Linked DNA regions of Homo sapiens: region 2 is linked to region 1. A link means that fine-mapping ties the variant in region 1 to the expression of a gene that starts in the linked region. Tissue or cell type: whole blood. Region 1 holds a variant in brackets; the other region holds the start of a gene. All regions are shown on one strand. Distances are from middle to middle.

The links. PIP is the estimated chance that this variant, and not a neighbour inherited with it, causes the effect.
Region 2: it holds the start of MFSD6, and the variant in region 1 is fine-mapped to the expression of MFSD6 in whole blood (INTERVAL, PIP above 0.99).

What each region holds. Positions count from the first base shown.
Region 1 is chr2:190,470,635-190,478,741 of GRCh38, forward strand. The region is part of intron 4 of MFSD6 (major facilitator superfamily domain containing 6); the gene reads left to right. It also overlaps a transcript of NEMP2 not described here. Among named protein-coding and RNA genes, the nearest start is that of NEMP2, 60 kb to the right of the region's middle. The variant G/C (reference allele first, on the strand shown) is at 4,163.
Region 2 is chr2:190,403,354-190,411,460 of GRCh38, forward strand. MFSD6 (major facilitator superfamily domain containing 6) reads left to right here and starts at 5,002. Exons shown (of 8, transcript NM_017694.4): 1 at 5,002-5,150. RefSeq lists an enhancer at 4,273-4,322 and a silencer at 4,583-5,622.

The sequences.
Region 1 (8,107 bases):
TTATATACGATTTCATTAGCTTTATAGATTGCCATTATCATTTTCCCTTACCCTAAGGAGACAAATGCGGTGTAATCAATGTGATTAATTGTCATGATGAAAGATTGAGAATTTCAGTCTTTTAAAATGAAAGATTCATAATTATACATCTAAACAGAATGTACAAAATGCCAGCTCATTCATCAAATTCATCATAGCAATGAAAAAAGAACTTATCCTAATTGAAAGGAGATATAATTTATATTCACATTATAATTATAAAATTCAAGTATATATATATATACTTTAAGATGCTTTTCTCAGATTTGATGCAATGGTGTAGCTAGTAAAAGGAGATTCTGTTTACAAATATATAGAAAATGGAAACTTGGTCTTTAATAATAAGAAATTATTGTTTCTAATAATTAGAACTCTGGAAGGGTCTTGAGGGGAGGCACACATCTCAGTTTTGTGTCATTTAAGAATAACAGGAGGGTGGAGCCAAGATGGCCGAATAGGAACAGCTCCAGTCTACAGGTCTCAGCGTAAGTGACACAGAAGACTACTGATTTCTGCATTTCCAACTGAGGTACCGGGTTCATCTCACTGGGGATTGTCAGGCAGTGGGTGCAGGATAGTGGGTGCAGCGCGGTGAGCGTGAGCTGAAGCAGGGCGAGGCATCACCTCACCCAGGAAGCACAAGGGGTCAGGGAATTCCCTTTCCTAGCCGAGGAAAGGGGTGAGAGATGGCACCTGGAAAATTGGGTCACTCCCACCCTAATACTGTGCTTTTCCAACAGTCTTAGCAAACGGCACACTAGGAGATTATATCCCGCACCTGGCTTGGAGGGTCCTACGCCCACGGAGCCTCCCTCATTGCTAGCACAGCAGTCTGAGATCAAACTGCAAGGCGGCAGTGAGGCTGGGGGAGGGGCACCCGCCATTGCTGAGGCTTGAGTAGGTAAACAAAGCAGCGGCTGGGAAGCTTGAACTGGGTGGAGCCCACCACAGCTCAAGGAGGCCTGCCTGCCTCAGTAAACTCCACCTCTGGGGGCAGAGCATAGCCAAACAAAAGGCAGCAGAAACCTCTGCAGACTTAAATGTCCCTGTCTGACAGCTTTGAAGACAGTAGTTCTCCCAGGACGCAGCTTGAGATCTGAGAACAGACAGACTGCCTCCTCAAGTGGGTCCCTGACCCGCAAGTAGCCTAACTGGGAGGCACCCCCCAGTAGGGGCAGACTGATAACTCATACGGCCGGGTACCCCTCTGAGACAAAACTTCCAGAGGAACGATCAGGCAGCAATATTTGCTGTTCACCAATATCCGCTGTTCTGCAGCTTTCACTGCTGATACCCAGGCAAACAGGGTCTGGAGTGGACCTCCAGCAAACTCCAACAGACCTGCAGCTGAGGCTCCTGACTGTTAGAAGGAAAACTAACAAACAGAAAGGATATCCACACCAAAACCCCATCTGTACGTCACCATCATCAAAGACCAAAGGTAGTTAAAACCACAAAGATGGGGAAAAAACAGAGCAGAAAAACTGAAAATTCTAAAAATCAGAGCACCTCTCCTCCTCCAAAGAAACGCAGCTCCTCACTAGCAATGGAACAAAGCTGGACAGAGAATGACTTTGATGAGTTGAGAGAAGGCTTCAGACGATCAAACTACTCCGAGCTAAAGGAAGAAGTTCAAACCCATGGCAAAGAAGTTAAAAACCTTGAAAAAAGATTAGATGAATGGCTAACTACAATAACCAATGCAGAGAAGTCCTTAAAGGACCTGATGGAGCTGAAAACCACGGCACGAGAAATAGGTGACAAATGCACAAGCCTTAGTAGCTGATTTGATCATCTGGAAGAAAGGGTATCAGTGATGGAAGATCAAATGAATGAAATGAAGTGAGAAAAGAAGTTTAGAGAAAAAAGAATAAAAAGAAACGAACAAAGCCTCCAAGAAATATGGGAGTATGTGAAAAGACCAAATCTACATCTGATTGGTGTACCTGAAAGTGACAGGGAGAATGGAACCAAGTTGGAAAACACTCTGCAGGATATTATCCAGGAGAACTTCCCCAATCTAGCAAGGCAGGCCAACATTCAAATTCAGGAAATATAGAGAAGCCACAAAGATACTCCTCGAGAAGAGCAACTCCAAGACACATAATTGTCAGATTCACCAAAGTTGAAATGAAGGAAAAAATGTTAAGGGCAGCCAGAGAGAAAGGTCGGGTTACCCACAAAGGGAAGCCCATCAGATTAACAGGTGATCTCTGGGCAGAAACTCTACAAGCCAGAAGAGAGTGGGGGCCAATATTCAACATTCTTAAAGGAAAGAATTTTCAACCCAGAATTTCATATCCAGCCAAACTAAGCTTTATAAGTGAAGGAGAAATAAAATACTTTACAGACAAGCAAATGCTGAGAGATTTTGTCACCACCAGACCTGCCCTAAAAGAGCTCCTGAAGGAAGCACTAAACATGGAAAGGAACAACCGGTACCAGCTACTGCAAAAACATGCCAAATTGTAAAGACCATCGAGGCTAGGAAGAAACTGCATCAACCAACAAGCAAAATCACCAGCTAACATCATAATGACAGGATCAAATTCACACATAACAATATTAACCTTAAATATAAATGGGCTAAATGCTCCAATTAAAAGACACAGACTGGCAAATTGGATAAAGAGTCAAAACCCATCAGTGTGCTGTATTCAGGAAACCCATCTCACGTGCAGAAACACACATAGGCTCAAAATAAAGGGATGGAGGAAGATCTACCAAGCAAATGGAAAACAAAAAAAGGCAGGGGTTGCAATCCTGGTCTCTGATAAAACAAACATCAGAAGAGACAAAGAAGGCCATTACATAATGGTAAAGGGATCAATTCAACAAGAAGAGCTAACTATCCTAAATATATATGCACCCAATACAGGAGCACCCAGATTCATAAAGCAAGTCCTTAGAGACCTACAAAGAGACTTAGACTCCCACACAATAATAATTGGAGACTTTAACACCCCACTGTCAACATTAGACAGATCAACGAGACAGAAAGTCAGTAAGGATATCCAGGAATTGAACTCAGCTTTCCTGAGTGGACCTAATAGACATCTACAGAACTCTCCACCCCAAATCAACAGAATATACATTCTTTTCAGCACCACACCTATTCCAAAATTGACCACATAGTTGGAAGTAAAGCACTCCTCAGCAAATGTAAAAGAACAGAAATTATAACAAACTGTCTCTCAGACCACAGTGCAATCAAACTAGAACTCAGGATTAAGAAACTCACTCAAAACTGCTCAAGTACATGGAAACTGAACAACCTACTCCTGAATGACTACTGGGTACATAAGGAAATGAAGGCAGAAATAAAGATGCTCTTTGAAACCAACGAGAACAAAGACACAATGTACCAGAATCTCTGGGACACAGTCAAAGCAGTGTGTAGAGGGAAATTTATAGCACTAAATGCCCACAAGAGAAAGCAGGAAAGATCCAAAATTGACGCCCTAACATCACAATTAAAAGAACTAGAGAAGCAAGAGCAAACACATTCAAAAGCTAGCAGAAGGCAAGAAATAACTAAGATCAGAGCAGAACTGAAGGAAATAGAGACACAAAAAACCCTTCAAAAAATCAATGAATCCAGGAGCTGGTTTTTTGAAAAGATCAACAAAATTGATAGACCGCTAGCAAGACTAATAAAGAAGAAAAGATTAAAGAATCAAATAGACGCAATAAAAAATGATAAAGGGGATATCACCACCGATCCCACAGAAATACAAACTACCATCAGAGAATACTATAAACACCTCTATGCAAATAAACTAGAAAATCTAGAAGAAATGGATAAATTCCTTGACACAAACAACCTCCCAAGACTAAACCAGGAAGAAGTTGAATCTCTGAATAGACCAATAAAAGGCTCTGAAATTGAGGCAATAATTAATAGCTTACCAACCAAAAAAAGTCCAGGACCAGATGGATTCACAGCTGAATTCGACCAGAGGTACAAGGAGGAGCTGGTACCATTCCTTCTGAAACTATTCCAATCAAGAGAAAAAGAGGGAATCCTCCCTAACTCATTTTATGAGGCCAGCATCATCCTGATACCAAAGCCTGGCACAGACACAACCAAAAAAGAGAATTTTAGACCAATATTCCTGATGAA[G/C]ATAGATGCAAAAATCCTCAATAAAATACTGGCAAACCGAATCCAGCAGCACATCAAAAAGCTTATCCACCATGATCAAGTGGGCTTCATCCCTGGGATGCAAGGCTGGTTCAACATATGCAAATCAATAAATGTAATCCAGCATATAAACAGAACCAAAGACAAAAATCACATGATTATCTCAATAGATGCAGAAAAGCCTTTGCAAAATTCAACAACCCTTCATGCTAAAAACTCTCAATAAATTAGGTATTGATGGGACATATCTCAAAATAATAAGAGCTATCTATGACAAACCCACAGCCAATATCATACTGAATGGGCAAAAACTGGAAGCATTCCCTTTGAAAACTGACACAAGACAGGGATGCCCTCTCTCACCACTCCTATTCAACATAGTGTTGGAAGTTCTGGCCAGGGCAATCAGGCAGGAGAAGGAAATAAAGGGTATTCAATTAGGAAAAGAGGAAGTCAAATTATCCCTGTTTGCAGATGACATGATTGTATATCTAGAAAACCCCATCGTCTCAGCCCAAAATCTCCTTAAGCTGATAGGCAACTTCAGCAAAGTCTCAGGATACAAAATCAATGTGCAAAAATCACAAGCATTCTTATATACCAGTAACAGCCAAACACCCAAATCATGAGTGAACTCCCATTCACAATTGCTTCAAAGAGAATAAAATACCTAGGAATCCAACTTATAAGGGATATGAAGGACCTCTTCAAGGAGAACTACAAACCACTGCTCAATGAAATAAAAGAGGATACAAACAAATGGAAGAACATTCCATGCTCATGGATAGGAAGAATCAATATCGTGAAAATGGCCATACTGCCCAAGGTAATTTATAGATTCAATGCCATCCCCATGAAGCTACCAATGACTTTCTTCACAGAATTGGAAAAAACTACTTTAAAGTTCATACGGAACCAAAAAAGAGCCCGCATTGCCAAGTGAATCCTAAGCCAAAAGAACAAAGCTGGAGGCATCACACTACCTGACTTCAAACTATACTACAAGCCTACAGTAACCAAAACAGCATGGTACTGGTACCAAAACAGAGATATAGACCAATGGAACAGAACAGAGCCCTCAGAAATAATGCCACATATCTACAACTATCTGATCTTTGACAAACCTGACAAAAACAAGAAATAGGGAAAGGATTCCCTATTTAATAAATGGTGCTGAGAAAACTGGCTAGCCATATATAGAAAGCTGAAACTGGATCCCTTCCTTACACCTTATACAGAAATTAATTCAAGATGGATTAAAGACTTAAATGTTAGACCTAAAACCATAAAAACCCTAGAAGAAAACCTAGGCAATACCATTCAGGACATAGGCATGGGCAAGGACTTCATGTCTAAAACACCAAAAGCAATGGCAACAAAAGCCAAAATTGACAAATGGGATCTAATTAAAGAGCTTCTGCACAGCAAAAGAAACTACCATCAGAGTGAACAGGCAACCTACAGAATGGGAGAAAATTTTTGCAATCTACTCATCTGACAAAGGGCTAATATCCAGAATCTACAAAGAACTCAAACAAATTTATAAGAAAAAAACAACCCCATCAACAAGTGGGCAAAGGATATGAACAGACTCTTCTCAAAAGAAGACATTTATGCAGCCAACAGACACATGAAAAAATGCTCATCATCACTGGCCATCAGAGAAATGCAAATCAAAACCACAATGAGATACCATCTCATACCAATTAGAATGGCAATCATTAAAAAGTCAGGGAACAACAGGTGCTGGAGAGGATGTGGAGAAATAGGAACACTTTTACACTGTTGGTGGGACTGTAAACTAATTCAACCATTGTGGAAGTCAGTGTGGCGATTCCTCAGGGATCTAGAACTAGAAATACCATTTGATCCAGCAATCTCATTACTGGGTATATACCCAAAGGATTATAAATCATGCTGCTATAAAGACACATGCACACATATGTTTATTGCAGCACTATTCACAATAGCAAAGACTTGGAACCAACCCATATGTCCAACAGTGATAGACTGGATTAAGAAAATGTGGCACATATACACCATGGAGTACTATGCAGCCATAAAAAATGATGAGTTCATGTCCTTTGTAGGGACATGGATGAAGCTGGAAACCATCATTCTCAGCAAACTATTGTAAGGACAAAAAACCAAACACCGCATGTTCTCACTCATAGGTGGGAATTGAACAATGTGAACACATGGACACAGGAAGGGGAACATCACACACTGGGGACTCTTGTGGGGTGGGGGGAGGGGGGAGGGATAGCATTAGGAGATATACCTAATGTTAAATGACGAGTTAATGGGTGCAGCACACCAATATGGCACATGTATACATATGTAACAAACCTGCACGTTGTGCACATGTACCCTAAAACTTAAAGTATAATAATAATAATAACAATGCATTAAACAGGAACTGCAGGTAAGAATGATTCAATAACAAGGTAATATGCAACACAGTTCTTAGGATTTCCCACCTCTGGTTCCTGTTCTATCCTGACCTGGCTTAATTGCTTTATTTATTGGTATGCTACAGTGTGCAGACTCTATAAATAAAGATTTGTATACCTACAGAAAAGAAATGACTATATATTATAATAATACATGCATATAACTTTTTTATCCTTTTAGTTTAAAATGAGTTAGGTGGAAAAGGACGGTTTCCATAAGTGACCCAAGAAAAGAGAACATCCATGAAACGGTTAAAGAACAACAGAATAATTTTATAAGAGGAAAAAACAAATGCTGTGTGAATTTAAAAATGCATTTTCCTGTTAATTTATTAAAGATATATTAAATGGTGACTAAGAGCCAGGCAGCATGCTGGGTGCTGAGAATGTAATAAAATATATACATATATTAACTCAGGCCACAAGGTCTCACCAACTGTTCTGGAAGCCAGATGTGTAAACACATAATAACTATACAGCATGTTAGATGGAATCATAGAAAAATGTGCTAGGTAGCAGATAAGGAGCTTACCCTAAGGAGAATAATTAACTTTGTGAAGCAGGGAGTGGGAGGATGAAGACTGTATTGAAAAATTCCCTACAAAAATCACATAAGCTAGATTCTGAAGGGCGAATAGGAATCTACCAGGTGGTCTAAAGAGAGTAGGCATTCCAGCATGGGGGAAGAGCTGTGTGCGAAGGCACAGAAGAGAACAGAATGGCCTCTTCAGGGAGCATAAGTGGTGTGCCGGGGCTAGGGCTTGAAGCATTTATCATCTCAAGCTGCCAACCCAGGACATGTTTTTATAATACTTGTATGCACCTCAGGGATATTATCCCAGGATTTAGGGAGCTGGCCATGTTCTGAATCTAAACAGGAATTCTGCTTCCTAGGGCAGGCTACGATACATACTTCTGTGTTTCATTTTATTCTCCCTTATGCCAGTAGAAACCTAGCTACTGGTCTGAAGCCAGGGAAGAGGATCTGTAAATACAGCCTCCTAGTGCAACAGAGGGCTCTGTGGCCAGTTTCCACAGAGCTCTTTGTTTCTAATGCTGGAGGAGATGGTTTCATTCCCTGGCAGAAGTGAGTGCTGAGTATTTTGACTGCACAACAAAATCAAAATCCCTTGCCTTTGTTTGACCCATGCCCACCCCATGGAAAACAGTAGATTATTCATGTGGAATAAAATCCTGCATCACAGAAATACATTTCTGACTGAAGAGGTTTGTTTTGCTAGTTTGGATTCGTCTGCCTTTACAAGGCTCGTCCAAATGGCTTTAAAGTCCGTGTGCTTAAAGGAGACTCTATTTAGGATGCAGTAAGGCAGGACATGATTAAAACAAATCACTGAATGATTTCATTGGAGGACAAGCCCACTCTCACAATATATAGCCCTTAATTCCTTGACTGGAAATGTTACTTGTTGATTGCCAAAGACCTAGTCTGGGGAAGGGGAAGGCTGGGGAATGG
Region 2 (8,107 bases), 67 kb before region 1:
AAGACTAGATTTCTCAGCTTTCCTTGCAGATAGATGTGGTCATATGAGCAAGTTCTGCTACTGGAATTTAAACGAGTAATATGTACATATGTACAACTTCTGGTCATGTTCTTTTTCTTCTTCTTTTTTTTTTTTTGAGAAGGAGTTTCGCTCTTGTTGCCAAGGCTAGAGTGCAGTGGTGCGATCTCAGCTCATTGCAACCTCCACCTGCTGCGTTCAAGTGATTCTCCTGCCTCAGCCTCCCAAGTAGCTGGGATTACAGGCAATTGCACCATGCTTGGCTAATTTTTTGTATTTTTAGTAGAGACGGGTTTTCACCACGTTGGCCAGGCTGGTCTTGAACCCCTGACCTCAGGTGATCCACCCGTCTCGGCCTCCCAAAGTGCTGGGATTACAAGCATGAGCCACTGCGCCCGGCCCATATTCTTAAAAGAAAGGAAAATGCCTTCCCCTTCCCCTTTTCCCTTTTGCAATGGCTGGAATGTGCACATGAGAGTAAGAGTTGGGGCAGCCATGTTGGGTTTTGATGACAGAGCAACAAGATCAAAAGAGCATAAATCTCGAGTCCCAACACCATGGGCTCACTTATTTACCTAAACTTTTTAATTTTATGATTTTTTAAGTTCCAGGGTACATGTGCAGGATGTGCAGGTTTGTTACATATGTTTACCTAAACTTTTATATGAGGGAAAATCATACTTTTTAAAAAAATTTAAACCACTGTATGTGGGCTGTTCCAATGGACTACTGTCCATGCTAAATAATACAAATGTTGAACAACATAGTGTTTCCCCCTGTCTTTAAGGAGCTTGCAATCTAGCATAGAAGTTAAACAAATGATTACAATAGTATATGATAGATGCCATGATAGAGAAGGCACATGGTAAACGAAGCCACCGAGGGGCGATAAAGCCAGTCTATGGAGGACATAATGCTTTGTCTAGGATATGGAGGAGAGAGAGAGTGCAAACCACTTACACCTGCTTGAAACAACTCTTCTATAGTCTTCAGTGACAACATCCTCCTGAATTGCCTTCTACTTCTGACTGATCCTTCCTGGTTTTCTCTCCTATACCAACTGGTAAATGTTGGCCCTTCTCTGGGCTCTCTGAGTCTATTCTCTTCCTGAGTAATCCCCTTCAGTCCAATGACTGTAAATAGTACCTCAATACTGATGACTGCCAAATCCAGCCCTTTCTTCTGGGCTGTGGACTCAAGTTTAATTGCCTACTTCACAGCTCCACCTGCAAGGCTCACAAGCATCTCAAACTCACTGAGTCAAATGTGAATTCTTCCTTTTTTCCTTCCAGCCTGCTCCTCCCACAGTCTCCTCCCTCTCAGTAAAGGTTATCACAATCTTCCCTAGTTGCTCAAGCCAGAAACCTGTGAGTCATTCTTAACACCTCCTTTCCCTTGCCTCCCACATGCAACATATCACCAAGTATGCTCATATACTTCCCCAAACTCTCAAATCTATCTGTTTCTCTCCATCCCAGCCACTACCACTGTGGTCCATGCCACTGTTAACCTTTCTCCTTGCTACTGGTTACAGTTACTTTTTTTTTTTTTTCTTTGAGACAGGGTCTCACTCTGTCACCCAGGTTGGGGTACAGAGGTGTAATCATGGCTCACTGCTAAGGTTGGGAGATTGACCTCTCGGGCTCTGTCAATCTTCCTACCTTAGCCTCCCTAGTAGCTGGGACTATAGGCATGCCACCACACCTGGCTAATCTTTGTACTTTTTGAGAGATGAGGTTTGCCATGTTGCCCAGGTTAGTCTCAAACTCCTGGGCTCAAGTGATTCGCCCACCTTGGCCTCCCAAAGTGTTGGGATTACACGCATGAGCCACTACGCCCAACACCAAAAGAATCTTTACAAACACCTTACCATGTAATTTCTTTGCTGTCTCATAGGATTGTGCAACACCATGAGGCACCCTTCACATTGTATTGTACCTCCTAGCTGTGCAACCAGCCAACATTGCTCCTCTCCTAAAACATAGTGAGACTCCACCTGTACAAAAAAAATTAAAAATTGGCTGGGTATGGTGGTATGCACCTGTAGTCCCAGCTACCTGGGAGGCTGAGGTGTGAGGATCCCTTGAGCCCAGGAGTTCGAGGTTACAGTAAGCTATGATCACACCACTGCACTCCAGCCTGAGTGACAGAGCAAGATCCTGTCGAAAAGAAAAGAAAAGAAAACAGATTACTTTGGTGGCAAAGTGAAAAGTTGATTGGATGAGAGAACATTTTGAGGCAGAGAGACCAGAGAAATTTTGCAGGCAAAGGAGAGATAACAGAGATTAGGATAGCACAGGGATGGAGAGAAGAGGACAGGTGCTAGAGATATTTGAAAAGGTAGAATCAAGAGTTTGGCATCTGACTGGATGTCATAGACAGAGTCATGGCCCGCTGTAGATGTCCATGTCTCAATCCCAGGAGCCTGTGAATATGCTTCATGGTAAAAGGGACTTTGATGATGGGATTAAGATTCTTGAAAGGAGGAGATTACGCTAGATGATGAAGGTGAACCCAATGTAATGAGGGTCAGAGTCAGAAAAGGCAATGTGAGGATTGTGGCTGAGGTTAGAGTGGTGTGCTTTGAAGATGGAGGAAGGGTCCATGAGCCAAAGTATGTGAGCAGCCCCTAGAAGTGGAAAAGGTAAAAGAAATGGGTTATTCTCTACAGCCTACAGAAAGAATACAGCCTTGTAGTCACCTTGGTTTTAGTTCACTAAAACCCATTTTGGACTCTTGACCTCCAGAATCGTAAGATAATAAATGTGTGTTTTAATCCACAAAGTTTACGATAACTTGTTACAGCAGCAATAGGTAACTAATACACTGGGCATGGGTATAAGGGTGAAAGGAGCATTGAGAAGAAGGGCCTTGTACAACTGGGTGGATGGCTGTTTGGGACCCCAGAGTCTGGGAACCCAGAAGCAAGAGTGAATGAGGGGCCGGGTGCAGTGGCTCACACCTGTAATCCCAGTACTTTGGGAGGCTGAAGTGGGGGGATCATTTGAGGTCAGGAGTTTGAGACCAGCTTGGCCAACACGGTGAGACCCCATCTCTACTAAAAATACAAAAATTAGCCAGACATGGTGGCACATGCCTGTAATCCCAGCTATTCAGGAGGCTGAGGTAGGAGAATCACTTGAACCCGGGAGGCAGAGGTTGCAGTGAGCTGAGATCACGCCACTGCAATCCGGCCTGGGCGACAGAGTGAGACTCCATCTTAAAAAAAAAAAACGAGTAGGGGAAGAACAGAAGGTAAAGAAACATTGACGTGGCACTTAGTGAGGTTGGGGTGCCTGTGACACATCCCACTGGACAACTGGCCATAAGGATCTGGCCCTCAGGAGAAAAGCTGACCCCGAGAGAGGGCTTTTGGAGCACCCTCAAATATTCTGTGATTGAAGCCAAGGAGTGAGAGAATTCGCAGAAACAAACAGAATCAGAAGAAAGGAAAGCCTAGAACAAAACCCAAGGAAAACTAAAACTCAAGTGGAGCAAAGGGGAGTGGCCAGAGAGGAAGAGGAAAACCCAAGACTTGTGGGTCACAGAAGGCAGAGGAGGGGAGAGTTTCAAGGAGGAAAATCCAACACTTACGGAGCACCAAAAGAAGAGAAGGGAAGAGTTTCAAGGAGGGGACCAGTGTCTCGTGTTCCTGACAGGAGAAAGAAATGCCTGGAGAAAGAAATGATTGAATATCTACGTCAATATTGAAAGTGGATTTAGCATGAGGCTACTATAGTTTAAGCTTCAGAGACCCTTCATAAGCTCAGGAAGGGGCCCTAGAAACTTCGTATTTGTAATTGTTTTATTCTTCCTAAAGAGGGACTCAAAATTCAGAAACTTCAGGGCCTATCAAATTCTTACCAGTATGATTTCACGGTTAAGAGCTTAAAGCCTGGAGACAAAAGAAGCCTGCTTTCCCTTTCGCTGTTTAGTAACTTTGGATGGGTCACATTAACTTTCAGCCTCGGCTTTCCTCAGTTGTAAAATGGGAATAACGTTTCCTACACCTATAGGGTTATAAGGCTCAAAGAGTACCTACACAGTGCCCCGTACATAATCGATGTTTATAAGCGTTAGCTACCATTGTCACTCTTGTCGTTGTTGCCGTTAGCTACCATTGTCACTCTTGTCGTTGTTGCCAGAACAAGACAATAAACTCCTTAAGAACAGGATGTGGCATCCCCCAAAGCCCATCACAGGCACACAGACATACTTGCCAAGTGAATACTCCACTCTCCCCCAACTCTCTGCGTGTTTAACTAGAAATACAACTTTAATTATATTCTTAGTGCGACACACACGGTTGGCTTTTCAGCAAGATGCCAGTAGCAGCTTCCTGAAAAAGGGTGCCTTCGTCTCAGTGTTCCCCCTTCTTGGTGAGCCCCGAAACTCACAGATCGTTTGTCTCCCGCACCCCGCCGGCTCCTCCCTCCCGGGTCAACCTGGGACAGACGCGGAGATAACGCACTGACAGCATTAGCATTGTGTGTGCCACTTAAAAGGCGCTCAAGGAATAAGGGATGTTAGTACATTTTCCCCCACATTTCCTGGCCCGCACTCATTGCCTGGGGGCTCAGCGGAAGTCGCTTGGGGGTGCGGGGGGGTGGAGGGTGCGGTAGGGATGGAGCCTCGCCCAGTGCTTTCGCCTCCTCAGCGTGCTCCCCGGGCCCGGCTGGGTTCAGGTGTCCCTCCGGGCCGCCGGGGCGGGCTGGAGGCCGGGAGCGGGCAGTCGACGCATCCGCCGCCGCCGCAGGAGGCGGAGCGCTGCACCTGGCGGCCGGTCCTCAGCGCCCGGCCCTGAAACGGGTCCAGCCGGTAGTGACCGGCGGCGGCGACTGTGAGGCCGGGGCCGGGGAGGAGGAGGAGCCGCAGCGGGAGAGAAGGTCGCGCCGGCGGGAGCGCTGGGCCCTCCGCCTCCGTCCTCCGTGGCCCCACCCGGTCCGCATCCCTCGCCTCGCCTCGCCGCGCCCCGCCCAGCCCGTCGCAGCCCCGGAGGAGCGCGCGAGCAGCCCGGGATGGTGCGCGCTGCCCCGACAGCCGCCGCCCCGGCGCCCCGAGCCGCCGCCCCGTGCTCCGGGGACAGGGCTCCCCGCGCCCCGCGCAGCTGAGCGCTGCCGCCGCCGCAGCAGGTGAGTCGGGCCCGGCTTGCGGAGAAGGGGCTCGCAGACCCGCCCTGGCCTCCCCCGCCCCGCACGGGCCCAGCCGGAGGGCGGGTAGGCACCTCAGCCGCGCACACCTGCTGCCGGGAAAGGGGCTTCGGGGCCGGGGCTCGGAGCCCAGCGTGCGCCGCTGTCTCCGCTCGGGCCTCGCTCGCCCGCCGCTCCCTCCCTCCCTCCCTCCCCCGGCTTCCGTGTCGGGTGTCATCTTTGTGGGGTGCTGGGGGAGGCTGCCGCCTGCGCCCCCAGCGCGCCCCGTGCTGGCAGCACTTCCGCAAACGTAACTGGAGTCGGGAAAACAAAGGCGCTGCCCAGGGAGCCCTCGCCGGGCGCCCACAGCTGCTGCCGCGGGTGGGGACGGAGGGTGAGCGCCGATGCCCGGGTCCTCCTCCGCCCGGGCCGACCCGCGCCCTCGCCATAAACATCCCTGGGAAAAAGGAGGAGGTGAGAACCTCCACACAGCCCCAGTGACAAGGACGCGGCCACTTGTGTGGCAGGAGGAGGAAATTGACAACGTCTGCCCTCCCAGGTTAATAAATACGGAAAAAAAAATACCTCTGCTCTGCCAGCCACCATCCTAGCAGACATCCCCCACCTCGTGCTTTACTTCCACTTGGTCTAACATGTCTCTGGAGCCCTTTTGAGATACTACTGGGGGTTGCTAGTCTTTCTGGGTCATATTTATTGCCCATAGAGCAATTTTCCTGCAAATTTAGGTAAGATGGTGGAAAAATACAAACGCAACTTTCCCCCTCGTTAATCCCATCCCCACATGGACAGACAGGTGGGTTAATTACCTTTATGCATTCGCAACCACGGACGTTTCTTTTCATCCCAAAAAGATTGAATAAGCACCTCACAGAACTACTGGAACATATAATACCTTGCTTATTAGTGTGCAAAAGACTTAAAGAGTTGGGGTTCTAATCCCAACTGGTATTTAAATAGATGTGTGTGCTTGGGCATGTCACATCTTCCTGAGCCCCAGTTTTCTCACATGGAAAAGAGGATGGTTGGATATTATAGTGGCCAAAATTTCCCCTAATCCTTCTAGAAGTCCATGATTTTCTAGAAATCTAACCTCTTAAGTATAGATGAATGTGAAGGGTGGGTGGACATACAGTTGACTAAAATATGTAATAAAAGGAGATGTGTACTTGGTAGGTCCTTTCCCCAAGATGTGGGCACTAGCCAGCTAAAAGTGTATGCATCTGTTTTAGCCTTGTTAAGTAAAAGGATAGGATCCTCCTCTTTGGGAAGCTTGGCTTTTGACACGTCAAGCTGCTAGCAGAGGTGCAGGATATGGTCAGCTGTTTAGTGATAGTCAGATGGCTTGTATTTATCACGAGGTGTAAGTAAAATTTAGGATTGCTTAGGGGAAGGATGGGACATTGTTAATGAGCCCAGTGCAGGATGCTCTGGGGAAACAGGAGGAGAGAACATCACTTCAATAATGCATTAAAGCTACTAAGTAGTTGTGTGTCCTTCATGTTTACAGCAGTTTATTTCTAAGGCACTTTCCATCTCTATACAAATAAATATAAAAGCGTGAAGGCAAATAAAACACAAAGACAAAAAGCAGAGTTCACAGGTATTTGGTGGTGTGAGTATTGGATCACCAATTCCATCATATATAGTGTCTGGACTATTAACAGTATTAAGGCATTTTTTTGGGTACTTATTATGTTCAAGACACCATTGTAAACATTTAGTATCTCAATCTCTGTAAGATAAATCTTTCCCCTAGTTCTGTGCATGACAAAAAGGAAGCTCAGAAGGGTTAAGCAACTTACACAAACCACATAATCAGTAAGAGGTAGAGTTAAATTTGACCTCATGTTTCTGGCTCCAAAGCCCAGGAAATTTCCACATGGTGTCCCTCCCTAATCAGAACCTATTAAGTCTCTCCACCTACGCAGATGTCTTCCTTAGCTTCGTGCCTTTGAAAATTAACTTGATTTCAATGTACATGTATTACTTATGTTAACATTTAGCCATGTAGGATAATTTATATATTTATTACGTATGTATATTAATGTGTGTATGTTTACCCTTTTGTCCTCACCAGTTGTAGATTGAAGGCAGTATGAAGCTGACAGGTTTCTTTGTTTTACTTCCTTTGACAGCAAATCTTAATTTGGCAATCTCATTATAGGGAAAGGAAGAAATGCAAAAAATGTGTGTCTGCTAGCTATTTTGCACATTGGCTGAAAAATCAAGATGCTGTATATTAAATGAAAAAAATGGCTGGGCAAGGTGGCTCATGCCTGTAATCCCAGCACTTTGGGAGGCCGAGGCAGGTGGATCACGAAGTCAGGAGTTCAAGACCAGCCTGGCCAAGATGGTGAAATCCCACCTGTAATAAAAATACAAAAATTAGCTGAGCGTGGTGGCGGGCGCCTGGAATCCCAGCTACTCAGGGGGCTGAGGTAGAGAATTGCTTGAATCCGGGAGGTGGAGGTTGCAGTGAGCCGAGATCGCGCCACTGCACTCCAGCCTGGGCAACAGAGCGAGACTCTATCTCAAAAAAAAGAAAAAAAAAAACTAGCTTCAGAAGAAATTTATATACATTTGTTTAAACCTGCATACAGGCACACATACGCCTTTTTGTCCCCAAACTGTTGACAGTAGTTTTTTTTTTTTTTTTTCAGACAGAGTCTCGCTCTGTCACCAGGCTGGAGTGCAGTGGCTCGATCTCGGCCTACTGCAACCTCTGCCTCCTGGGTTCAAACTATTCTCCTGCCTCAGCCTCCCGAGTAGCTGGGATTACAGGCACATGCCACCAGGCTCAGCTAATTTTTATTTTTTTAGTAGAGACGGGGTTTCATCATGTTGGCCAGGATGGTCTCCATCTCCTGACCTCATGATTCCCCTGCCTAGGCCTCCCAAAGTGCTGGGATTACAGGCATGAGCCACTGCGCCCAGCCGAC